7 linked regions of the Homo sapiens genome follow. The protein of the gene in region 1 interacts with the protein of each later gene in a pairwise test. Each region holds a gene or a part of one and is shown in the gene's direction. Other genes may lie near its edges. The genes, in order: FAM9B, CWF19L2, DNAJC15, CCDC116, PHYH, UBE2E2 and RUBCN.

Region 1 (3,500 bases):
GTATGTAAAAAATATTTGCATTGTGGTACAAATCTTTTATGATTGCTGAAAATTATTCTTAGCAATTGATGGTAGAGCTCTGATGTGAAATCATGTTTAGGAAAGCATTCCTTGCAGTATTACAGTTTTCTGAAACACAGCACTATGGGTACAAATGTCATAAAAAGCTCCAAGAAAACATTTCAAAAGTGTTTTTGAATGTATTTCTTTACCTAAACCTAAATTTTTATACTCATGGCCATTGCTTCTTTTATTAAAATACAGTTAATAGCATCAATCACTAGATTGCTTAAAAATGCTTTTCTTATTGTGCATTAAGTTATTTCTACCCTTTTGAGGGTTCTATTATATAAGATACTTTTTTGTGTGCTTTACGTAATGAATTGTGCAGTATTTCATGGAAGCATCTCCTTTGAATTGTAGGACATTTTATAAATGTAGAAATTAAAGTCTGTGCTTATAACTCTTTCTGCACATTTAAAAAATAGAGACTTTTAATTATTTGCTTTTTTTCATCATCTGTCAATTAAGTGATTTTCAGTTATACCAACTGGAATTGAAATGCGAATGTTAATACCTGAAAGGTTTTACAGAAAATAAGTGAGTAAATCTTGCTTTTTGAAATGATCTTTGCATTTTATATTTTAAATATCCTTCTGAAATTGCTGAACCATAAAGTCCCATATTGATGTCAGTATATGCAAAGAAACTACTTTTCAACATTAACTTTTAATCCATTTTCATTTACTATCTAACTGACATTAAAGAGGATCTTACTGCAAAAAGAAAAAGGATGAAAATGGATAAAACTTGCAGCAAAACAAAGAACAAAAGTAAACATGCTTTGAGAAAAAAGCAACTTAAAAGGTATGACTGTTGGCTTTTTTGCATAATGATATTTATATCATTTCTTTGTATTAGTTGGTGCAAATAATTTCAAAAACTATCCTGTACATATTGGCGTCTCTAGTGAACAACATATTTTACTTGATTGTTCTCTAAGTAGGTAAGTTTCTTTAGTTTTATAACCTCAGTTTAACAGAATTAAGAGATATTACCTAGAAGCCAATGAAGATGACCTCTTTTTGCCTTCCAGATAAAAATAGCCTTCTTGTAAAATTAATGTTTATCCATTTCTAGAAATATGGTAGCTGCATATAAGATAAATGTTCTCAATGTTTAGTCTGTAGATCCTTAACGATACTCAATTATGTAGAAAGGGATAACCTTATGTTGTAAATAAGTTATCTATTTTAGTTAAATTGTTTTCACTATTTCTTTTACAAAATCATTGGTGTGCCAAAGTGGAGAAATAGTTAAGTGAAGTTTTTCTTTTGGGAAATCTTATGGGATGAATGGCTATGATATTCTTGAACCTACTTATGAGAACCCATATGTTATTCAGTAAGAGGAAATGGAAAGTAAACTGCTCTTAGAGAAAATGTTTCTGGGAAAGTTATAGTGCAGTAAACCCTCCTTTGTCTTCAGCAGGTAAAGAATGTAAGATAGCTGCTCTAGTAGTCAGGAAGAAAAGAATCCTTTCAAAATGAGAGTAACTCATTTCACTTTTTTCCAAAAAGAAGATTTCAGCTGCTATTACTCCCTTGCTACTTTATAGTATAAATTATGTCAAGTCAGTTTGGGTTTGAATAGGATTAATTTTTCATCTCTCTATGACGTATGACCGTGTTACTTATTATGTGTTACAGGCAGAAACGTGATTATATACATTCTCTGAAGTTGCTAAATGTCCTTGAAGAATACATCACAGACGAGCAGAAAGAGGAAGAAGAAGAAGAGGGAGAAGAGGAAGAACTAATTGTTGGTATCATGCTTAGCTTTATGTATAACCTGTTATGTCAGTGTCTCAGGTAGTAATAGTTCATGCAGAAATCCAGCAAAGAAGGAAGAGCGCATGAGCCCAGAGAGGGGGGCCCGTTAGTGGACTAATGGACTAGGGGAATATAATTGCCACGCAGCATTAGGGGTCCAACTGAAGTCAGCATCATAACGATGAAGAAGTTAAAGTAAGCCCAGTTGGCATATTTGTGCAAGCACAGCTGTAGGGTTGGAATTTCCTGGGTCGGGGTGTAGCCGAGCAGATTGATAGAGGGAGAGTTGGGCAGGGAATAGATGCAGAGATGGGGATATGATGACTGGCTGTGGAATTTCAGCTGGGACTGAGTTATCTGAGCACACGGGAGTGGGCAATGGGCAGTAAAAAGTGCTCCATTCAGTGGGTGTCAGGTCCCAACAGACTCCTGAGCTGTAGTACTGAAGTGAGTGACCTACGATGGCAGGGAGGTAGTGGCTGTATGTTGGGAAGTTGGAGAAACAGCTGAGTGCAGTGGTCAAGGGCTGGGACTATGCATCCACACTGCTTGGGATTCTAGCTTGACCATTGCTAGCTCGGAAACCATGGAAAAATTATTTATCTCAGCTTGACCATTGCTAGCTCGGAAACCATGGGCAAATTATCTTATCTACGAAAGGAGACATGGTAAGAGTACCTACGTCAGAGTTGTTTGGAGGATCAAAGGGTTTCTGTGTAACAGGTTTATTTAAGTTTTTCAGGATGTGATCTGACCCATGGTTGCTCTTTATCATTGCTATTATTAATATTACGTAGGTGTTGAAGTCATTGGGAATGACAAAATCTAGGGGATGACTGTGTGAGTGAGTGCCACGTAGAGGAGAGGAGAACACTGTTGTTGGAGATTAGGTCAGGGTGCAGAAAGGCAATCATTATTGGGTGGTTCATCTATGTGCATATTGAAATGACCGAGATTTAATACATGCTTAAAATCTTAGAAAGAATTTTTCTTAGTTAATTTCTGTATAGATCTTACCTATCTGTGGTCAACAAATTATAGGAAGGTTCATCAAATACTCTTCATTGGAAATCAAGAATTAGGACATATGTGTTGAATGTGTAAAAGTAAGAAAATTCTTTACTTAATGACTGATAAAAAAGGTTAATACATCATTTTAGCATGTTATTGGTGAACACAATTGTTTAAAATTGGTCCTAAATGTTGTCTAAAAGAAAGTGTTCAGAGGTATTGATTTAAACAGTATTCCTTTAAAGCTAATGCAGAATTATGTTTTGTAAGTATTAAAATTTACCCAATTTTTATCACTATTTTGTTTTGGGATTCTAGAGAATATTTCAAGAACAACAGAAGAAGTGGCAACAATATAGAAGTGTTAGGAGAGAGAGGCTGAAAGAGATGAAGCTGCTACGTGACCAATTCGTAAAGGTCTGTTCTATTTGGTAACATAATACATTATAAAATACAACACGTGCATAATAGAAGACAGTCTGCTTGTTTCTGAATGTATGGAAAGACATTTGATTATACATTTCAAATTACTTAGCATTTTCACTTTGAATGTATTGTTCCAGATATAATATAATTGGTAAATGTATTTTTAGGATTCATGAATAGTTTGTGGGAGTTATTTAGAACAGGAAAAGGTAAATTGGAAATTTTACCTAG
Region 2 (3,500 bases), on another chromosome or scaffold:
TAAGTCTGTCTTTCCTTTGTGGATAATTTGTTATTTATCTACCCCTATCCATATACAGGCTCACACTTATTCACTCCTTCCCTGATCTAGTCCTTGTAAAGGTTTTTTTTTTTTTCCTTGAGTTTTGAGATTCAGGTATTAGGGTTTTTTTCTGTGTTTTTCTTCTTTCTCCCCCACCCAAGGCTATTGGATGAGTCCTTCTGAGAAATCGGCTGGGGAAATTTTCTTATATATTTTTAAAATTAATGCTCTATTCCCATCATCTTTGCTCCATCTTTCTGGAAGTACTAATAAATGCATATTAGATTTTCTAGAATCAATTGTTCATGTATCTTTTTTTCTTATAACTTACATTTATTTACTACCTTTTCCTAAAATATAGAGAATTCCCAGGTTAATTTAGTTTTCAGCACTGTCTTTTCTTCCTTTTGGTGTATCTTGGCAGCTTTTTGGGACACACAATTTTTTATTTCCAAGTCTTTCTTGTTCTTGAACTATTCTGTTTTTTTTTTTTTTTTTGGTGAGAATCTGTTTTAGCAATTTAACCTCTTGAATCTCACAACCAGTAGGAATTAAGTATTTTTTGCAAAGTTTGTCTCTACTGTTTTCTGTGTTATACTTTGTGTTAGTGCAGAGTGTTTGGTGTAACTGGCTATCCTTTTGGAATCTTTTTGTTATTTAATAATTTTTAATTGTTTACACATTTTTAGAAAGTATTCGTTTCCGTATAGGATGATTGTATGGGTCTTCTTTCACCCCGTTAGTGGGCTTTTCAGTGTGCCACTTGGCAGTGAGTCATACAGTGACATGTGGGGTGCAAGTCACTGAGCCGTTCCTAATTTTAGATATCTTGTTTAATTTTTCTCCTTTGTAGTCAATGGAAATATTTCAGTCAAAATTAGAAGATGCTGAAAAAGCTGCATCCACGAAAGAAGATTATAGACGGGAACGGTGGAGGAAACCCACATATTCAGATAAAGCACAAAATTGTCAAGAAAGTAGAGAATCAGACTTAGTAAAATATGGTAACAGTTCAAGGGATAGATATGCTACAACAGATACTGCAAAAAATAGCAATAATGAAAAATTTATTGGTGATGAAAAAGATAAGAGACCTGGGTCTTTAGAAACGTGTAGAAGAGAATCTAACCCAAGGCAAAATCAAGAGTTTTCTTTTGGCAATTTGAGAGCTAAATTCTTGAGACCCTCTGATGATGAAGAACTGTCATTTCACAGCAAGGGCAGAAAATTTGAACCACTTAGTTCATCTTCAGCATTGGTAGCTCAGGGCTCTTTGTGTAGTGGTTTTAGAAAACCCACCAAGAACAGTGAAGAAAGATTAACATCATGGAGTCGCTCTGATGGGAGAGGAGACAAGAAACATTCAAATCAAAAGCCATCGGAAACCAGTACTGATGAACACCAACATGTTCCAGAAGACCCAAGAGAAAAATCACAAGATGAAGTCTTGAGAGATGACCCTCCAAAAAAAGAACATCTACGGGATACAAAGTCTACATTTGCTGGGTATTTTATCATTTTTTAACCTAATAAGTTAAGATCCAGAGAGTTCAAAGAACAGAACTGTATTTTTAGAACATCAGTTATTAGCTGTGACTATGATCTCACATTTCTTAAAATTGATAGAAGGGGTAAGATATGCAGATTTAACAGGCAGTATTGTGGTATGGATTGCATTTTATTTCATAGGTTTTTTTTTTTTTAAGAGCTGAAAGCAGTAGCTATATTTGTTCAAAATATGTTGCTGCTTTGCAATTTAAAAAACTGAATGAGTTAATGTTTTAAATGTATGTGCTGCAGGAGATATTTTGGTAGATTTTGTTACCAATGCCATTACTTTCTAAGGAAATTATCTTATTGTTGAGTATAATCATAATCATAAATACTGCATGTCTATAGGAAGTCTAGGAGACAAAAGGAAAACACGCTGCCACGGCCCAAATATAAAGTGACAAATACATGCCAGAGATCTTGCAGAGGGGAGCATGAATTATGGTTGTTATTTTGCACAAAGAAAGAAATAATCCACTTTGGGCAATTGACAGATTTTAAAGATAATATTAGAGTTTTAAATATAAAATATATGTTGCATTTATGTAGGGCTGGGTTAGAAGATGAGGAAACCCAGGTTGAATGGGACTAAACCTAAGAAAATTTGCTTTAGAAATTTGCTGGCCCTGTTGGAGATAGCCAGAAAAAAAAGTGTCCAAAGGGTAACAACTTACACGTGAATGATCATTAAAATATGTTTAAAAATAGCACCAAATGAGTGGGACACTAAAGGAAGAGGTTTTAGGAAATAATAGAAACACATGGTTGTAGTAGATAAAAGCACTGTGGTTTGGGGTTGTGAGTCTGATAAATCACTTTTGTTAATGACTCCATCTGAAGCAGTGGATTATAAAACTCAGTGTGTAATTTTCGGTGGGAGGGAGCTGGCAAAATCTGAACTGAGTGATTAAGCCCCAGTCAAATGGACTCTGGTTCACATCAGGGCTTTCCTCCCAGGAAGTGGAAGGAGAAATCCAATTGTATTGACTAAACAAACATGGCAGGGATTATTGTCTAAGGCTGTATGCATATGTAATTGTCCAGTCTTCACTCCAGGTGCCCTGGGTGGTAGACTATTTCCAGTTCCCAGTCACTAGGGGAATGAGGCTCTTATTTCCTGATATCATTAGGATTGGGTTAGCATTTGGATGATCTGTAGGCCTTCTTCTGTGACTGTAGCTAAGCAAAATGTCTGCAAAGTAATACCACACGATTAGTATTCCAACCGGTTGTCTGATTGCTGCATATTTGTATGTCTTATTTAAGTTGTAAGCTTCTGATAGATACACTATAATACAGGCACTCACTAAAAGCTGTGTATGTATATAATTTTTCGGTTTGAAGACAGCACTCACTAAAAGCTATATATGTGTGTATATATATGTATGTATACATGTAATTTTTCCTTTGAAGACAGTATTCTTTGTTCGCTGTGTTAATTTGATGGTACAGAGGGTTTGAGGCTTTCTATGAATTCTGTGACTGGCTGGAGAGGGAAAGAAAAATCTAGGAATCATCCAAAAAAAAAGATTCCTGAGAATGTAGAGTGGTTGTAAAGTAGGAGACCAAGACAGGACCTTGAAGAATGCCTAGTTGTTACAAATAATCTTTGTCTTATAAGTGAATGGTCATGATTGGAAAAATTAGTTGAATTAGTTTTTACTTCTTTGTATGTATTGTTCATATATCTTTACCTTTCTTGTTATTTACACCAGTATTATTTTTTAGAACATGCCATTTGTAATCTTAATAAATGTATATGTATAAAATTTAAACAATATAGACAGAAGAGTATAAAACAAGAATATGAAGCATAGGTGAGTATAAAATGAAAAAGTAAATCTCCCTTTCATGTCACTTCCAACCCTAATCCTATTTGCCAGGTTAACAGTGTTGGTAGTGTCTTTCCAAATTTTTTAGTGTATTTG
Region 3 (4,128 bases), on another chromosome or scaffold:
GCTGTTACCCTTGTACCTAAAGATGCCATCCTAATCCCCAGATCTCCACAACTATACCTACATAGTAGAAGGTTAAAATGTATCCCTCTTTTTCTGGTGCATCCAGCAAAAGTAATATCATGAATTATGAGCTCTCTGAGAGCAAGGATCATATCAGTCTTGTTTATTGTTGCAGTGAACAAGTACAGTTGCAGATATTCAGGAGTAATTATCTAAATGGCAGTAGGCTTATAAAACTGAATTTTCACCAGCCACACCCTCCCCCCAACTCCTTATCTGTAAAAAGCTTATTTGAGTGGTTACCTGTCTTCAGTAAAGATTGCGCTTGCATATTTGCTGTCATTGCATATTCTGCTTAATTAAGCTCTGTTGATATTGCAGTTTCTGTGCATACTTACATCTTAGATGCAATCTGAGGGCCTAGGAAGGCCTTTTAAAAATAAAACAATTCCGATTGCAGAGAAAGTGTAAGTCAAGGACAGTTAATTCAAGGGGAACATAGAAAGCTATTTAGATTTTAGTTGATGGTGCCAGTCTTCAGCGTAAAGTCAAAAGTGGAGGGAAGTTTAGTAAGGAAAAAATGTTGGGCTTGGAATACATTGTTTAGTCTTCAAAGCACTTTACTTTTTATGAAATATATTTTAGACATTCAGCAAATATTGAATACTTACTATATCAGGCAGTAAAGATATAAATTCATTCTTAAAATGTGCAACATGTTCAAACTGAAAAAAATACATTCTTAAACAGGAAACTTTTTCCTTCATACTTTTTAATTAACAAGACATATAAGAGTTGCATTAATGGGCGTGCTTATGATTGATCACCCAGCAGCATCATTAGAAATAATATATTTTATTCATGTGCAGAAATCTTTTGGTTGTCCTGGGGAACCTTGAACACAGAAAAGAGCTTTTATTGATAAGGTAATTGAACACACTTGACAATTAGCTTAATATGGTTTAATACCATTTGTGGGAGAAGATGAATCAGCCAGGCTCTTTACGTCAAGAATATGAAGTTTCTCTTGAGTCAACCAACTTAAGATGAGCTACGGAGACTGCAGTGAAAAGTTAAATATCCAAGTACACCAGCCAATTTCACACAGTGGAACCATGCTGTCCTCGGGCACCCTGCACCTCGCCCAACAGTCATCAACTAGATGGAGGCTCCTGGCTGCAAGGAGGATTTGATGGGAATGAGTAAATGTGTCAGCATAGTCCGTCCCTTCTAATGGAAAAGCAACCCAAAGAGCAAATCCTATTAATGGCTGGATCAGTATCATCTACTTGTCAAAAACATTCCATGAATTATGAGTCAAAATTTTATTTATGGTGGCATTACACACATTAAGAGATGAGGACTTCTGTTAGCATAATTTATTAGCTGGAAAAGTTGAGAAGGTTCTCTGGACTCATTTTTATAGGTGGAACCTAAGTGATCTGGATAATTGCCCACCAGCAAAATTGCTGGGCATGGTGGACAAAGAAAATGTTCCTTCTAATGATTTTTTATGAGCTGAGTAGCTATTGTTCCCAGCTGAGTGCTCTTTTCCTCTTTTTATTGTTGCTGAGCAAAAGAATTTATAAAAAGCTCTTTCTTTTGTATTAAAAACCCTGCTCAATTGAAATGCAAGTTCATTAAGTAATCTTCATTTCTCTTCCTGCCATAATAACCCTTTCCCTCTCTGTTCGATTCAACAGTATCTAGCAGCACTGCTCCAAATTTTAAGTCTGAACAGACTATATTACATAGATGTAGAGAAATACTCAATCTTCAGCATTAAGAGGGAGCTTAATTTCACACGGGTGGAATATGATCACTCAGGCTAGATGTTGGCCATAAATTTCAAATTAGTATCTCAACTTAGCAGGGGGGATCAACAGTGGCAAACTTCAATTATGACAGGATAAAAATCACATAGAGATATTGGTTCAATATGGACATCTAAACTATAATGCTAAAAGCCAATAATTAGAATAAGTTCATTTTAAGAAAAGCATTAATAATATTAGCTAACGTTTAGTACCTGTGCCAAACATTCTACCTATGTTACCTTGATTTTCATAGCCAGCCTAAGAGGTACTATTATGTATCCCCATTTTACAGGTTAAGAAACAGGCTCAGAGGAGTTTAGGATCTTTTCCAAGATTACATAGCCAGTAAGTGGTGGCACTAGGAACCAAATTCAGACTCTGAATCGCATGCTGTTTATATTATATTGCACTCATTCTAAATATGTGGGAATCAGAATGAAGGGGCTTGTATGACTTTTGGCTCATTTTTTGATGCATGTGACCTGGGATTATAAATGTGAAATTAGGTTTACGAAAGGATCCAGTGTCATTGTGCATCATGGGCAAGGAGTACCTAATCTCTTTAATTCTTCCCTGGAAGCTTACGATGTCCATCCAAGTGCACATAGCAAAAGTTCTGTTGTAAAGTTTAGCAGAGTGACTTTCTTTGACTCAGAGTGATGACGGAGGAAGCTTTGATAAGATTTTATCTGAAATGTTCATGGACAAGAGCTTTCAAGGAGAACATCCAGAGCAAGGTTCTGAAGACAGCTCATGAAGGTGAAGCAGCAGACCTGGCACAAGAAATGAAGAGAGAGCTCAGTGTATTAAAGATGAAAACAAGAAAACCGAATATATTGAAAGGAGCAGAGAGGCAATGAAAACAAGACAACTGAAATGAGGTAACTTGCAGCAATTGAAAGGGAATTTCAGTACTTTTATAGAATTCTTAAAAATTGTTTCCTGCTGTTTATTTTCAATTTTGAACAGGGTTATTTGTCCATGCCATACTTTTTTTGCCAAATTCCAAAATTGTGTATAGTTCTATAGTTGTCTGGTGGAGTCAATGGAACTTTAGTTACCAGTCTAAGAATGTGTCTTTGAGATTGTCCAGTTAATTCTCTATTTCCAGTAGCTGTAATAAATGGTGAAAAGGTTTCTGACTCCTGGAGAAAGTTTCTAACTCCTTATGACTAATATTCATAACAGACTTGTGAGTTCCTTGAACATGGATACACCTATATGCAAGAGTGTATTCCAAAGCTAACTCAGTGATCTTTCCATTTATCTATTCTTGGATTAGTGGTGCCTTTGCTCTTTCCTTCTGTAAATGTGAATAGTTAAGAGTTGACTGCAGAAGTGTTTACACTTTGGCTTCCATGCCTCTGGAATGTTTGTGCTTTGGTGGTGAGATGTGAGACTATATTTGTATAGTCTGCATCTCTCAGGCTGCCCCAGAATGTTGTACAGTGCAGTGCTGAAGAAAGCAGCAGGTACACACAGAAATGCAGCCTTTCCTGGTTAACCCTGCTTGGATCTGAGTTACACTTTGTTTCCTGACTTCTTGGGACTTAGGTAATCAGTTTGCCTTCTACTCTATCTCATTTTGTACTCGCTTACATACTACATTCTTGTTTGGGCTTTCGTTTCTTCTTGTAAGCAGAGATTTTTTAAAATCCAATATGTGAAAATACGGATGCACTACAATTAAATAAATAAAATGCTGTTGTGTTTGTTTTGCTTTAAAATTGTAAAGGATAAACAATAAGATAGTTTTATCTATGTGGTTTTCCCGATGCAGTTAAAATAAAACCTAATCTGCTAAAATTGAATTTACACTCAATTTTTCTGTTGTATAATTCTTGAAGAACACCTCATGTGTTGTACAACTTCATCTACATTGTGAACTCTTTTATTTATTGAAAGTCTATCTTAGTCTTTCACTTTTTCTACACTTCCCTTTACTTCCTCATGAGATGCTCAGCCCAGTTGTCCCTCAGGACACAGTATCGATTGGTTCACTTTTAAAAGCAACTGTTAGAAACCCAAATCATAGACATGTGAATTTTCTCAGAAGCCATTATTGAAACTTGGATTTTTACCTCTCATACCAAAATAAAGAAGGGAAAAAATAGAAATCAGCCCAACAATACTTTTAAATTGATTTTTATATTTATGTTGTAATGCAAATACCAAAGAAAAGTGCCTAGTTCCTTGGTTTATTTACTTATATCTTGCCTCTGTTATCTTCATATCAATTTTTGGCCTTAGCACTTTTGACTGCATAAAGAACTCTAAACATAGGCAATGGTAATAGAAATGCTGACACATC
Region 4 (4,062 bases), on another chromosome or scaffold:
TCAGAGGTCCCGAGGGTCTGCAGGTGGGAAGGAGGAGACTGACATTTATTGAGCACCTACTTGGTGCCAGACACTGAAAGTATTAGAGATTAAGGGTGACTTGCCTCTGTTCTGGCCCCAAAGAAGCACCATCTGATAGAAAAATAAGTAGCAACATGGTATGGTAGAGTCTGGAATGGGGTTTACTGTGAATTGCGTAGGGCGTGGCAGAATTCACAGTAAAAGGTTTTTGGAAGAAGTGACACCATGGTGGGGTATTACTGAGCAAAGGGGAAAAGGAGGGAGGGAGAGGAGGTAAGAATATACAAGGCTCCGCTGGGCGCGGTGGCTCAGGTCTGTAATCCCAGCACTTTGGGAGGCCAAGGCAGGCGGATCACAAGATCAGGGAATCGAGACCATCCTAGCTAACACGGTGAAACCCCATCTCTACTAAAACTACAAAAAAATTAGCCGGGCGTGGTGGCGGGCCCCTGTAATCCCAGCTGCTCGGGAGGCTGAGGCAGGAGAATGGCGTGAACACGGGAGGCGGAGCTTGCAGTCAGCCGAGATTGCGCCACTGCACTCCAGCCTGGGCGACTGAGCGAGACTCCCGTCTCCAAATAAATAAATTAATTAATTAAAGAATACACAAGGCTCCACTGGGTTACTGGGTGTGCTGTAGGGAGATTTTATTGAATCCCATACTCCCATATTGGAAGAACACTCAAGCCCATTTACAGTGTGGGACTAATGCTGAGAGGTTGAGTCACATTGGCAGGAAAGAGCAGAGCCAGGAACTGAAGCTAGGTCTGTGACTTAGAGCCGGCACTCTTTCCACTGCAGAGGGGAGAGGTCTCAAGGCAGAACCTGGGGCTGTGCACACCGCGGGAAGGGCAGAGGCCCCTGGAAACGAACAGGAGCAGGAGGCCCAGGGCTGCGCAGCAACCAAGGAGGACACGAGGAAGGTGCTTGTGCCACCGGTGGAAGACGTGGCTTTGGCTTTTAGGCTCCCCTCGGGGCAGGAGCAGATCAAAGAGCCTAGCCCCAGCTTCGGTGGTGGGTGGGGGGTCCTCCCGGCAGCGGGGAGCGTGGGCACCAGCATCCTCAGCCTGCGGCTCCCAGGCGAGTGTGGGAGGGCAGAGCCCAGAGAATTGGAGGTGGGGCCAATGTGGGCCCCGCCCCCAACCATTGTGTCGGAGAGGGAAGTGGACGAGCTCCTCGGTAAGAACCAATGAGGATGTGGTATGCAAATAAGCAAGTGGAGGCCGCCAGCCGACTTCCTCGCACTGTGCAGCTGCTCCAGTGAGGGCGCAGACTGTACTGGCCTGTGCGGAGCAAGGCGGTGTTTCTGGTGAGTCTGTTGATTCTGGGCTGGGGTGAAAGCCAGGTTGCCCAGGGTTTGGGAGGAGGGCGGGTCGAGCACACGCAGATCCAAAGATGATCGGAGACAGGATTGTCCTCAGCGATTCCACCCCGATGACTCTGGAAACTGCCTGCCTGCAGACGCATGGGGGCCATGGAGCAGAGGAAGGGCTGGATGCATGAAGGAGGCGGGGTGCGGGGAGCGAGGGACCCGCAGACTCCAGGGCCACAGATGCGTGGACCTATTGGAGACCCTCAGGTTGTCTCCCCACCCCACGCAGAGAGGAATGCGCAGCTGAAGAGAGAGGTGGGCAGCAGGCCCGGTCACCTGCCAGGTGACCACATGGCCAGGTGCCGCCACCACTCGGGTTACCTGGCCGATGACGAGGCCAGCCACTCCATGTGCAGTGCACGGGTAAGTGTGCCCAGCAGGGCGCCGACCCTTGAGGCCACAACATGTTCCCCACCAACCCTGGCACCCAAGACCACAACCCCCATTTCTCATTGTCTATTGACTTCTCTGGGCCTCTTAGTGAAGTCCTTATTGCCTTGACTTCTCCTATGTCCCCCACTGCTTGCCCCTGTCACACTCAATTTCATTCCTTGTTTCCTCCTGACTTCCAGCGACCCAGAAGGTGCTTGGGTGGACTGGGACCCTAGAGTGGGAGCATGGAGTTGACTAGGTGCCTATGGCTCAAGTTGGAGAAACAGGCCCGGGTAGCACAGGGCTCAAGACCTCAGGTGTTGTCTGCACTCAAGACCTCAGATGTTGTTTGCAGCCCTGCCATGGATACAGGGATGGCCTGCTGCATGGACAGATGAGGAGCTGGAGGGAGACTCCGAGAGATTCATGATTGCTCATCCTGCCACGTGTCAGGGCAGAAGCAGGCTTGCAGACTCCTTAGCCAGGACTTGTGTGTGTGAAATGTAGGTGTTAGGAAAGCTTCGGGGTGACCCTGAATAGACCTCCACTTTGCAGATGAGGACATTGGACCTCAAGAGGGGCCATCTTGCACACTGGCATCAGGCTGTAGGTGGCAGAGCCAGGGTCCAAACCCAGGGCTTCCAGACTCCAAAATGCAGCTCCTTCCACTACTCACTCCCACCCAGGTCCTAGTGTTACCCCAGGGAACCCTTCACCTGTAGGGCACCCCTGCCCCCTGTGACATACCTGTCTGCTCAGGTGCAGCTGCCCAAGAAGCCACTGGTCCCAGAAATGCGGCCAGCCTGCAAGCCGGGCCGTGTGCCACACCCACCATCCACATGTGGCAGCTCAGCACTCCAGGGCCAACGCCGAAACAAGAGGCACCCTCAGCCCTTTGGCCACTTTCTGGATTTCCTAACTGAGAGCCAGGTCCTGGACAGCCTGGAGACAGTGGTGGAGAAGGCGACTGAGCGCATGGCTGCCATGAAGACGGAGGCTGGGGTGCCGCTTGTGGAGGTGCAGGACCCAGTGGAGGTGCCAAGTGGTGGACGGCGGGCACATGCCCGGCCCAGCCTCAGCACCGTACACCGGCACCGTGTACGGCCGACCCTCTGCACTGGACACCCCAACAACTACCCATCCAGCTCCAGCTCCATGTCCAACTGCCATAGCAGCCTCATGGCCGGCTGTCTGGGCTCCCACAGCCGGGACAGTGACCTAGGTGCCCAAGGCTCATTGCCACCTGTGAGGGACAAACTCCTGCTGGAGAAGAACCTCAAGCGGCTGCTACAGCTGGAGAGGGAAGGGGTGAGAGCCAGGGCCATGGCTGGGTGGGGTGGACTCCCATGGAGAGCCCAGGGCTAGGGTCAGCCCTGGCTTGGCTGCTCCTGAACACTTCACAGAGTCACCCTCTTTCTGCAGAAAGGCCTCAGTCAGTCCTGCTCCCAGAGGGACTCCCTGCTGTGGGATTCGCTGGGTAGCCAGACCAGCTTTCAGTGGACACAGGAGCAGCCCTTGTCCTGGTTCTCAGGGCTGCTGGGCTCAAGCTCTGGCGTGCCTGAAGCATCAGAGCCGAGGCCTGGAGAACAGGAGCCAATCTTCCGCAAGCGAGAGTTCAATAAGGAGATCAAGTCATTACTGAGCCAGCTGGAGTCCCTCGACCTGCCTGGCTACTGTCCGCTCCGTGAGCCCCATCGCACGCTGAACTTCCTGGCTGACCACCGCCTCTTCCCTGCCCTGCAAAGCGTGGTCAGCCAGGCTGTGGATAAGCTCCGTGGCGCCCACTGCCGCGACGGCCGTCCTCTGTTCCCCACCAGCTTGGAGCCCACCTCAGATCTGCCGCCTCTGGGCTCTGAGCCAGCTAAACCCACCAATGGCGGGCAGCCCTATGCTTCCCCCCGCCCCACAGTCTCCAGCCCCAAGATGCTTCAGAGAAAACGCAAGGACAGAGGAGGCTCCCCCTCCATGTCTAGTGCCCAGGTGGCCACCAGATTCAAACTCAAGGTGACACCCACGGAGAAGCCCAATGTCCCCAGCCCCTCACTCCACTCCAGGGAGGAGGCACCTGACTCAGATCCCAAATTACAAAACCCACCTGTTTCCCTGAGCTCCAGCCAGAGGGCCCAGCCCTGGCAGGGCCTGCACCTCACCCTGCCCACGCCAGGGATTGTGGTGGAGGTGGCCTGCAGCCAGGGCCACCTCAGGGGCCCTGTCACACCTCCACTTTCCTCCCCCTACCCCCGCTCTTCCTGCTACCTTCTCCCTGAGCTCTCTCCAGTTGCCTCTTCATCTCCCGC
Region 5 (3,500 bases), on another chromosome or scaffold:
ACTCCTGACCTCAGGCAATCTACCCGGCTCAGCCTCCCAAAGTGCTGGGATTACCGGCGTGAGCCACCGTGCCCGTCCTGTTTTGTGTGTTTTTTTTTCTTTTTCTTTTCTTTTTTTTTTTTTTTTGAGACAGAGTCTCACTCTGTCGCCTAGGCTGGAGTGCAGTGGTGCGATCTTGACTCACTGCAACCTGCTGCCTCCTGGGTTCAAGCGATTCTCCTGCCTCAGCCCTCAGCCTTCCAAGTAGCTGGGAGTACTGGTGTGCACCACCATGCCCAGTTAATTTTTGTATTTTTGTAGAGACGAGGTTTCATCATGTTGGCCAGGCTGGTCTCAAATTCCTGACCTCAAGAGAGCTGCCTGCCTCAGCCTCCCAAGGTGCTGGGATTACAGGTGTGAGCCACTACACGTGGCTTAGAACTTTTTTTGACATCAGCCACTTCAAAGGGGATTTCAAACTTGACTCCATATCACTCTCTTCAATGTAATTAATGCAACTGGTTTTTGAACATGCATTACTGCATGCTAGGTACTGTGCCCAATCCAGGGTCACAAAAGAATAAAGCACAAGGCCGGGCGTGGTGGCTCACGCCTGGAATCCCAGCACTTTGGGAGGCCGAGGCGGGCGGATCACGAGGTCAGGAGATCAAGACCATCCTGGCTAACACAGTGAAACCCCGTCTCTACTAAAAATACAAAAAATTAGCCGGGCGTGGTGGCGGGCGCCTGTAGTCCCAGCTACTCGGGAGGCTGAGGCAGGAGAATGGCGTGAACCTGGGAGGCGGAGCTTGCAGTGAGCCGAGATCGCGTCACTGCACTCCAGCCTGGGCAGCAGAACAAGACTCCGTCTCAAAAAACAATAACAACAAAGAATAAAGCACAACAGAGATGAGGATGTTATACCGCTTGCTGGAAAATAGTGTGCATAAGTACTTAGCTACCAGCAACCCGGAAGAAGGGAGTGCGGGATTTGAAGATGTGGAGCCAGTGTGTTGATTTCCAATTTGGTGTTTATCTCTCCGGGGCTGATTTTCTCTAGCATTATTTCATTTGTTTGGTTCTTCTGGGGACAGGTCATTGTTTTTTCAGGCAAAGGATAAGAATTCTGAGACCAGCTTTTTTTTTTTTTTTTTTTTTTTTTTGGTTGGGGGTGGGGGACAGGGACTCGCTCTCTGTCACCCAGGCTGTAATGCAGCAGTGCAATCATAGCTCACTGCAGCCTCGACCTCCAGGCTCAGGTGATCCTCCCACCTCAGCCTCCCAAGTAGCTGTGACTACAGGTGCATGCCACCACACCCGGCTAGTTGTTTTTGTTGTTTTGTTTTGTTTTGTTGTTTTGTTTTCTGTAGAAACGGAGTCTCACTGTGTTTCCCGGGATGGTTTTGAACTCCCAGGCTCAAGCCATCCATCTGCCTCAGCCTCCCACTTTGGGATATATTTTTATATCCCAAAGTGCTGGGGTTACAGGCGTGAGCCACTGCACTCGGCCTCGAGTATCCTTTAGTAGCAGGTTTTCTTTTCAGGCAAGAAGACGTCCCGTCACCCCCTGCACCAGGACCTGCACTATTTCCCCTTCAGGCCCAGCGATCTCATCGTTTGCGCCTGGACGGCGATGGAGCACATCAGCCGGAACAACGGCTGTCTGGTTGTGCTCCCAGGCACACACAAGGGCTCCCTGAAGCCCCACGATTACCCCAAGTGGGAGGTAGGTCTGCCCGGCGGCTGAGTCTTGATCCGAATCTCCTTCGCAGTTTCTGTTTCACATCAGTACCTCTAAAGAGTTTACAAATGAGATGGCATTTCCTTTCTGAGCAAAACATTGTCCTAAGATTTGCAGTGAGGATCAGAGAAAGTTCAAGGATGTCAGAGAAAACATTCATCACACCTATTTTCAACACTTTTTTTGTTTGTTTGTTTTTGAGACAGGGTCTTGCTCAACTCACTGCAACCTCCAACTCCCAGGTTCAAGCCATCCTCCCGCCTCAGTCGCCCTAGTAGCTGGGACTACGGGTGTGCACCACCACGCCCGGCTAATTTTTGTGGTTTTAGTAAAGACAGGGTTTTGCCATGTTGGCCAGGCTGGTCTTGAACTCCTGACCTCAGGTGATCTGTTCACCTCGGCCTCCCTAAGTGCTGGGATTAAAGGCATGAGCCACTGTACCTGCCCTTAACACGTGTTTGAAAGCCAGCCAAGGTGGGGAGCTTGGGTAGGTACTGTATAGGATCCGAGATTGTAAGTCCTAGCTGCAGAGGTAAGACATAAACCCTTCGACCCCAGATGTGTGTGGTAGACACCAAGTCAGTCTTACTCACTAACTGATGGCTCTCAGAGTAAGGAAGGAGAGATTGTCTCCTTGCAACTGCAGAGACCAGCAAAGGATCTGGGGAGGCTGGTGTCTGACCTGAGCCTTGCAGGACAGTGTACAATGTCCCATAGGGAAGAGTCGATATAGGAAGGCACAAGGTCAAGGGCAAGCCTGAACTTGACCAAAGAACAGGAAAGACCCAGGGAGCTTGCAGTCTAGATGGGCTGGGCGCTGGGGGTGTATTTTGGGGAGCAGCAGAGGAGGTGAGCCCAAAAATGTACATTAGGACCAGATTAGAAAAGACTGTTTTACTAACAAGTCTGCAGTTTATTTGGGGGAAGAATGGGAACTTTTTAGTTCAAACTTTTAGGAAGATCGAAGACCCTTTTTGTTTTTTTGTTGTGTTTTGTTTTGTTTTGTTTTTGAGGAGTCTCACTCTGTCACCAGGCTAGAGTGTAATGGCACGTTCTCGGCTCACTGCAACCTCTGCCTCCTGGGTTCAGGTGATTCTCCTGCCTCAGACTCCCGAGTAGCTGGGATTATAGGCGCGCACCACCACACCCAGCTAATTTTTGTATTTTTAGTAGAGACGGGATTTCACTATGTTGGCCAGGATGGTCCTGATCTCTTTAACTCGTGATCCGCCCACCTCTGCCTCCCAAAGTGCTAGGATTACAGGCGTGAGCCACCACACCTGGCTGAAGAGCTTTTAATTAAAAAACAAACAATTAAACAAATAAACAGTTTCATTGAGGTATAATTGTCATGTAAATTGTACATATTTTGCATGTATAATTTGATCATTTTCCACACACACATACCTGTGAAATCATCACCACAATCAAGATACTCCATCCTTCTCCCTGCTCTAGGCAACCACTGAGCTGCTTTCTGTTACTGCAGGTTAGTTTGCATTTTCTAAAATGTCATAGACATGTAATCACATAGTATAGATTTTTTTGTCCCGTTCTGGCTTCCTTCACTCAGTGTAGTGATTTTGAGGTTCATTGATGCTGTTGTGTATGATAGTAGTTTTTTGTTGTTTTTTTTTTTTTTTTTGAGACAGAGTCTCACTCTGTCACCAGGCTGGAGTGCAGTGGCACGATCTTGGCTCACTGCAACCTCCGACTCCCTTGTTCCAGCAATTTTCCTGCCTCAGCCTCCCGAGTAGCTGGGACTACAGGCACAAGCCAC
Region 6 (3,500 bases), on another chromosome or scaffold:
TGGAGGGATGGTGAGTGGTTATTCCAAGGTACTAGAGTATTCAGTTTCCCTTTCGTGGGGGTGTATTGCTGATCTCTGTTGAAGGAGCTGTTTGAAAGTCAGAGAGCCCTGAACTTTAAACTTTGAGACCTGTATACTAGACCATGCTAGGGTGGGGAAGAGGGTTCAGTTTGTTTTGCCATCACAACACAATTACCGGGGACTCAGCTGGCTGACCCTTCTGTTTGCCAGACCACAACACAAATGACCTGCTTAGAGGTGACCTGGAAAATGGGGGGTGGGGTTAGGATGGATGAGAAAGGTGGGGAATAGAGAAAATATGACATTTAGGTGAAAGAAGGAAGTCGATGTAGGTGGGAAGGAGATGTTCAGGTACAGATTGTAGTTCCACGCAGATGAGGAAGATCTAATTCAGTCCTCAGTGTCTGATTGGGTTTTTACAGGGCCTCTTCAGTTTGTCAGAAAAGGGGAAGGATTGGTTGGCCAGGTCTGTGGGGAATAGGGTTCTGCTGGGCCTGTGCTTTATTCTATGATTGCTAGTTAGCAAAGTCACCTGTTGTGGTGAGGCTCTGCCTTTTCCTCTAACTGGGAGCACCACTATAAAATACCTTAAAATCATATTTCTTGGGTGATATGTCAAAGACCAAATTCTGCTTATGAAAGATGTACTGCTTTATGTGTGAACATGAGTTTTTCAAGTACGTGGGTCATCTTTATTTTACTACAGTATATAGAGAAAGTACGGATTATTCAAACCTAATGATAGATTTCACGAGGGAAAAATATAGAAGATATTTTTCTGCACTGTATGTAGGAGATAAAACCTAGTTTAGAGATAATGTATGTGCAGAGCGCAGCGCAGTGCCTGATTGGCAGTAAATAGAAAGTGGTTGTATTGCATTGGTGAAAATAGGAAGTCTCTTTTGAGTTGCTTCCTGGCTGAAAGAATCCCTCCATTGGCAAATTGTTGTGAATCTGTGATTTTCAAATTGTGGTTCATGATCTTCCTCTAGAAAGGTCTTCAGTTGGTTTTCGGGTGACAGTGTATGAAATGATGTAATTATGTACTATTTATTTTAAATATAAAAATGCGGCTTCACTACTAATTTTTTAATTTAAAAAACCTTATTTTCCCCTCTCTCTTCCTCCAATTCAGCTGATAGTGAAGTTGTTGGTTCTTTGCCATTTCTGCTGAACTTAGGAAAAAAATTGGGAATTATGAGCACAGAGGACCCCACATCTTTTAAGTTCACTGCCATGTCCACAGTGCCTAGCAGAGTACAGTCACAGTATTTATTTACTGGCTGCCTTGGAACCCTGAGCTTCTTATAGGGATCGGATTTTCCATGGATATTAGGATCTTAGTACTAGTGTGTTCAGAAGATTAAAAGTTAGAGGTAGTTTCAAAATAAATTTTATTTCACACTTTTTTGTTGACGATCATTTTTATTCAGATGAGAAGCCTTTCCCAAATAGTGTCATTTTATGAGATAAAGAGTAGCATTGAAGAGCTTGAACTCTAGAGACAGCATCTACGTTTGAATCTAGGTTCTAGCATTTAGTAGCTATAGCTCTGTGGTCTTTTTTTTTTTTTTTTTGAGGCAGAGTCTTGCTCTGTCACCCAGGCTGGAGTGCAGTGGTATGATCTCCAACTCCTGGGCTCATTCAGTCCTCCAGCCTCAGCCTCCCAAGTAGCTGGGATTACAGGGTTGTGTCACCACACCAGGTTAAATTTTTAATGTATTTTTTGTAGGGATGGGAGTCTCACTATGTTGCTCAGGCTGGTCTTGAACTCATGGTTGCAAGCGATCCTCCTGCCTTGGTCTCTCAAAGTGTTGGAATTACAGGCATGAACCACTGTGCCTAGCCTCTGTGATCTTGATGTATAATTTAACAGCTCAAAGCCTCGATTTCTTCTTTCGTAGAAGGAAGATGATAACGGTACGCTGTTCAGAAGGTTCTTGTGAGGACTAAATGTGATAAAGCATTTATTTGGCACATAGTAAGCTCTCAAAACTGATGCCGTCACTGATAGACTTTATGTCAGTTAAAATCTACGGTCATATTTTTCAAGTCTGTTTGGTACAAACTTTGGAAAAATGAGGTATATGTTAACCTTGGAGGCCTTAATGCTATTGTTAAACTAGAAATACTCAGATGCCGTAATTAAATACATTTTGTAGTGACTTAGGAAAAGTGCTTGCACGTAGGTGCTCAGTTATTATATGAAATGTACTATAATTGTAGAATTAATAATTGTAATGCAGTAATTATAGAATTAATAAGCTGGTATAGAACTATGATTTGAAAAATCTCATTTGTGATATTATAGAATAGTGGTATATAATACAGAAAACATTTAAGTGGGTATTTAAACAGCAGTAGAAATTAATTTCTGTCTCAGAGTTAGGAGGAAAGATTACAGTTACATCTTAGATGCATTTTTGCTTTTCTTTGGCAAGAGTTTCTTAAAAAATTGTCATGCTCTTATCACAGCCTGTTCTCTTGATATGTCTATATCACTCTTGTTATATTTGCAAGTCTGTTGTTGGACTATATCTGCAGTGACAGATTTAGATTATTTTGATTAAATTGACTAGTCAGTTCAATAAAACGTCTATTTTGAGATCTTCTTTGAATTTATTCTGCTGCTTTTACGGGTTGATACATCTGTAAATGTGAATTTTATATCATATTTATTCTAAATTAACTGTTTAGAGTGGACATGGTGATTTTATTTTTGGACATTCAATATGATACTGTTCGAGGTATGGTTTTTGGTTTCAGACTAAATTTTTGTTAGGTTGAAAGATTGATTCCACTGTATTCCAGTTTGAACTTTTATCATATGGGCTCGTCTAAGTTTGTTTTCCACATGAGAATGAAATAGTACTTTTGTAGATAATCTTTTGTAATTACTGTATTTTCTTCATTCTAAAAGTACATTTTAAAACTTTTTAATGTTTCTGAAATTGGGACACATCTTAAAATTTATGTGCACAATTATTGATGGTGTGTCTTAAAATCAATGATCTTTCAGAATCATAGATATATAGTATATACCACCATTTAGAATGAAACTCTAGACTTCTTATTTGCAATGGCAATGTGTTTTCTAAAGATTGCTTTGACATTTAAAAAATTTTAATAATTAGTTGCATGATGCTTTTTTGAGAATAAGTTCATTTTGGAAGGTTTTCGCTAGGTGATTCAATTGATTAGAGTAGGGGTTTTTAGGTTGACTGAGGAATGTAGTCTGTAAGGGAATATAGAAAGTTGTCTAGATGAGATGAAGGGTTTTAAAAAAATTCCTGCTAAGAAATTACTTTGCGAATCTGCGTATCCACACATTCATGTTCTACTTGGCTCTCAGTAAATTTTTGAATTTTCTTTAACTCAAGAAATGTATGTGTGTGTTTTAAACATGTTAGTACATATACACTGCTTCATTTTTCTGAACCCTTAGCCCAATATATTGATGTTAAAATGAGTGTTTCGTA
Region 7 (3,500 bases), on another chromosome or scaffold:
AATACAAAAATTAGCCAGGCGTGATGTCATGTGCCTGTAGTTCTAGCTGTTCGGGAGGCTGAGGCATGAGAATCGCCTCAGCATGGGAGGTGGAGGTTGCAGTGAGCTGGATCACGCCACTGCACTCCAGCCTGGGTGACAGAGTGACTCTGTCTCAAACAAAAAGAAAAAGAAAACATTATTTTTACTGTATACCTTGTATGTCATATGCATATGTTACCTGTTCAAAAGAATGGTTAAAATAATCTTTAACAATTATTCTTTAAAAGGGTAAACATATGTCAAGTGTAGTATTCCTTTTTTTTTTTTAATTCCTTTTCTTTTTTTTTTTTTTTTTTCTGAGTTAGGGTCTCACTCTGTTGCCTGGGCAGGAGTGCAGTGGCACAATCATGGCTCACTGCAGCTTTGACCTCCCAGGTTCAAGTGATTCTCCCACCTCAGCCTCCTGAGTAGCTGGGACTAAGGCATGTCCCACCACTCGGGGTAAGCTTTAAATTGTTTGTAGAGATGGGCCAGTCTACCTGGACTCAAGCAGTCCTCCTGAAGTGCTGGGTTTACAGGTGTGAGCCACCACCCCTGGCCTCTGTGTGTATCCTTTGATTGCTGCTAAGAACCTTTGATGAGGCAAGGGAAGGTTGTGGTCCTTTTCCTATCTTTGAATGCCAACCCTAGAACTAGATCTGGTCCAGAATGGTCGTGATTTGCTCATTGTATGTGTTCCCTTTGCAGGCGTGCCGCCGCCAGACGGATTACTGGCAGTTCGTGAAAGACATCCGGTGGCTCAGTCCCCACTCAGCCCTTCACGTGGAGAAGGTAAGAGTGAGAGCAGAGCGGCTGTGCTGGCAGAGCTGTGGGTCTTCACTGTTTGAGGCTCTGTCAGAAGAATCTTCTAGGCTCCAAGGAGGGAATATGTCCAGTTGCCTATCAGCTGAGGAAAGGAAATTAATTATCCCTGTAGGGACTGACTTTATTTGCTTAAAAAAAAAAAACATGCAAACCCATTGGTCCAGGCCACTTTTTCTCCTCTGGGGAAGGGAAAAAAAGTTTTGCTATTTTCAAAAAAGCCTGCCTACATGGGACCCAGGGTGAAGCCTTTCAAAGCATTTCCCTTACCTGTCTCAATTTAGTTCTCAGGTCATTAGGCCTCAATCTTGCCGTATCTACCAGGATGTGTGTTTTGACTCATGCCCCTTTGCTTCCCAGTTCATCAGCGTGCACGAGAACGACCAGAGCAGTGCTGATGGTGCCAGTGAACGTGCTGTTGCCGAGCTGTGGCTGCAGCACAGCCTGCAGTACCACTGCCTCTCAGCCCAGCTCCGGCCCCTGCTCGGGGATAGACAGTATATCAGAAAATTCTACACAGGTAGGTAGAGGCCACTTAGGACTGTCATCTGTGCTTCCTCGTTGTCACCCACCTCACTATCCTCTACCCCTCTGGTACCAGGGCCTCCTATTTTTCTTTTTTTCTTTGAGATGGACTTACGCTCTTGTCACCCAGGCTGGAGTGCAATGGCGTGATCTCGGCTCACTGCAACCTCCGCCTCCTGGGTTCAAGCAATTCTCCCGGCTCAGCCTCCTGAGTAGCTGGGATTACAGGCATGTGCCACCATGCCCAGCTAATTTTGTAATTTTAGTAGAAATGGGGTTTCTCCATGTTGGTCAGGCAGGTCTCGAACTCCCAACCTCAGGTGATCTGCCCGCTTTGGCCTCCCAAAGTGCTGGGATTACAGGCGTGACTACCGTGCCCGGCAGGGCCTCCTGTTTTTCACTTGATGCCATAGGGATTCTACTCAGAAACATATATCCAGACTTACCTCTCACCTCCCAAGTAAGACACAATCCAGCTTTATGTTAAGGTCGTCCCCTACGGCCACACACACAAACCGTAAGAATAGCCACCATTTACCACGAGTTTCCTGTGTGCCCGTCACTGCTGTCCAGTATCTTCACAGCAGCCCCGAGAGTTGGGCATTGGTGCTACTGTTTCCAATCCACAGGGCTCCAGGAGGTTAGGCGACTTGGCCAAAGTCACTCAGAGCCAGGATTCAAATCTGGATTTTTCTGACGTTGAAGCCTCTTGCCCTGGCCATTTTGCTGCACCTCGCGTTCTTCAGCTTCTCCTCTACTTTGTTTCTGATCTGCCTTCACCCTCCTCCTCATTCATCCTTACCTCTCCCTTTCTGCTTCCTCAAGCTTCTCTCAAGGCCTCCCTGATGGGCTCTATCACTGTGGCAGCTTTTCTCTCCCCAGATGCTGCCTTCCTGCTAAGTGACGCTCATGTCACGGCCATGCTGCAGTGCCTGGAAGCAGTGGAACAGAACAACCCCCGCCTCCTGGCTCAGATCGATGCGTCCATGGTACAGGGGACAAGGAATTATCCACGTCTATGCTGGGTCCCTGGAGCTCAGCAGGATGTAGCCCTCTACAGCAAACTTTTTCACTTAGCCATTTTTGTGAGCTGAAAGGCTTGCATTTTTTTTTTTTTTTTTTTTTTTTTTTTTTTTTTTGAGACAGAGTCTCGCTCTGTTTCCCAGGCTGGAGTGCAGTGGTGCAATCTCAGCTCACTGCAACCTCTATCTCCTGGGTTCAGGCGATTCTTGTGCCTCAGCCTCCCGAGTAGCTGGGATTACAGGCGCCCGCCACCACACCCAGCTATTTTTTTGTATTTTTAGCAGAGACAGAGTTTCACCATGTTGGCCAGGACGGTCTCGATCTCCTGACCTCGTGATCCTCCCGCCTCGGCCTCCCAAAGTGCTGGGATTAGAGGCCTGAGCCACCGCGCCCGGCCAGCTTTCATTTAAAATGCTTGGAGGAGGGGAGGTACTGTTAAGTACCTATTGAAGTAGAAAGTCTAGGCTTAGGTCGTGTGCTTAGTAGACCTAAGCTGGGGAGTGGGGAGGTAGATTTTGTTAAACCTGTGGTATCTTTTGACAAAGGATACCAAGCCTTGACAAAGATCTGGGGAAAAGAGGGATGGTTTTGAATCGGATAGAGTTTAGTGTCAGACCTGGCATAGCTTAATGTTACACGGGGTCAGTTTTTTCATGTTTTTTTCTTTGATGTAAAGAAAATTTTATAGTACAAAGAAAATTTGTTGCCTAAAATTAACTTATCCCATCACTAATACTCCAGTCAGTGCCTTAGCTAGAATGGAATCAGAGTCCCCACTTCTTAGAGAAGCAGATCCCCTATCTCTCCAGATTCTTTTAATTAATTATTATCATTATTATTATTTTGAGACAGAGTCTTTACTTTGTTGTCCAGGCTGGGCTGGAATGCAGTGGCATGATCTTGGCTCACTGCAGCCTCCGCCTCCCGGGTTCAAGTGATTCTCCTGTCTCAGCCTCCCGAGTAGCTGGGATTACAGGTGCACGCCACCACGCCCAGCTAATTTTTGTATTTTTAGTAGAGACGGGGTTTCACCATGTTGGCCAGGCTGGTCTCGATCTCCTGACCTCAAGTGATTTGCCCGCCTTGGCCTCCCAAAGTGCTGGGATTAC

The links.
Region 2: the proteins of FAM9B (region 1) and CWF19L2 interact in binary tests that used the Homo sapiens proteins (3 or more experiments, as listed by UniProt).
Region 3: the proteins of FAM9B (region 1) and DNAJC15 interact in binary tests that used the Homo sapiens proteins (3 or more experiments, as listed by UniProt).
Region 4: the proteins of FAM9B (region 1) and CCDC116 interact in binary tests that used the Homo sapiens proteins (3 or more experiments, as listed by UniProt).
Region 5: the proteins of FAM9B (region 1) and PHYH interact in binary tests that used the Homo sapiens proteins (3 or more experiments, as listed by UniProt).
Region 6: the proteins of FAM9B (region 1) and UBE2E2 interact in binary tests that used the Homo sapiens proteins (3 or more experiments, as listed by UniProt).
Region 7: the proteins of FAM9B (region 1) and RUBCN interact in binary tests that used the Homo sapiens proteins (3 or more experiments, as listed by UniProt).

The regions. Positions count from the first base shown.
Region 1 is NC_000023.11:9,027,628-9,031,127, reverse strand, and holds part of FAM9B (protein FAM9B), read left to right. Parts: intron 1-531; coding exon of another isoform or gene 532-560; exon of another isoform or gene 561-767; coding exon 768-867; intron 868-1,709; coding exon 1,710-1,821; intron 1,822-3,161; coding exon 3,162-3,260; intron 3,261-3,500. UniProt on the Homo sapiens protein: May play a role in meiosis.
Region 2 is NC_000011.10:107,426,826-107,430,325, reverse strand, and holds part of CWF19L2 (CWF19-like protein 2), read left to right. Parts: intron 1-874; coding exon 875-1,527; intron 1,528-3,500.
Region 3 is NC_000013.11:43,110,586-43,114,713, forward strand, and holds the end of DNAJC15 (dnaJ homolog subfamily C member 15), read left to right. Parts: 3' UTR 1-3,628; downstream 3,629-4,128. UniProt on the Homo sapiens protein: Negative regulator of the mitochondrial respiratory chain. Prevents mitochondrial hyperpolarization state and restricts mitochondrial generation of ATP. Acts as an import component of the TIM23 translocase complex. Stimulates the ATPase activity of HSPA9.
Region 4 is NC_000022.11:21,631,498-21,635,559, forward strand, and holds the start of CCDC116 (coiled-coil domain-containing protein 116), read left to right. Parts: upstream 1-1,262; 5' UTR 1,263-1,330; intron 1,331-1,482; exon of another isoform or gene 1,483-1,486; coding exon of another isoform or gene 1,487-1,684; coding exon 1,685-1,756; intron 1,757-2,524; coding exon 2,525-3,073; intron 3,074-3,187; coding exon 3,188-3,769; coding exon of another isoform or gene 3,770-4,062.
Region 5 is NC_000010.11:13,286,565-13,290,064, reverse strand, and holds part of PHYH (phytanoyl-CoA dioxygenase, peroxisomal isoform a precursor), read left to right. Parts: intron 1-1,523; coding exon 1,524-1,705; intron 1,706-3,500. UniProt on the Homo sapiens protein: Catalyzes the 2-hydroxylation of not only racemic phytanoyl-CoA and the isomers of 3-methylhexadecanoyl-CoA, but also a variety of other mono-branched 3-methylacyl-CoA esters (with a chain length of at least seven carbon atoms) and straight-chain acyl-CoA esters (with a chain length longer than four carbon atoms).
Region 6 is NC_000003.12:23,209,827-23,213,326, forward strand, and holds part of UBE2E2 (ubiquitin-conjugating enzyme E2 E2), read left to right. Parts: intron 1-3,500.
Region 7 is NC_000003.12:197,702,405-197,705,904, reverse strand, and holds part of RUBCN (run domain Beclin-1-interacting and cysteine-rich domain-containing protein), read left to right. Parts: intron 1-729; coding exon 730-813; intron 814-1,203; coding exon 1,204-1,363; intron 1,364-2,250; coding exon 2,251-2,357; intron 2,358-3,500.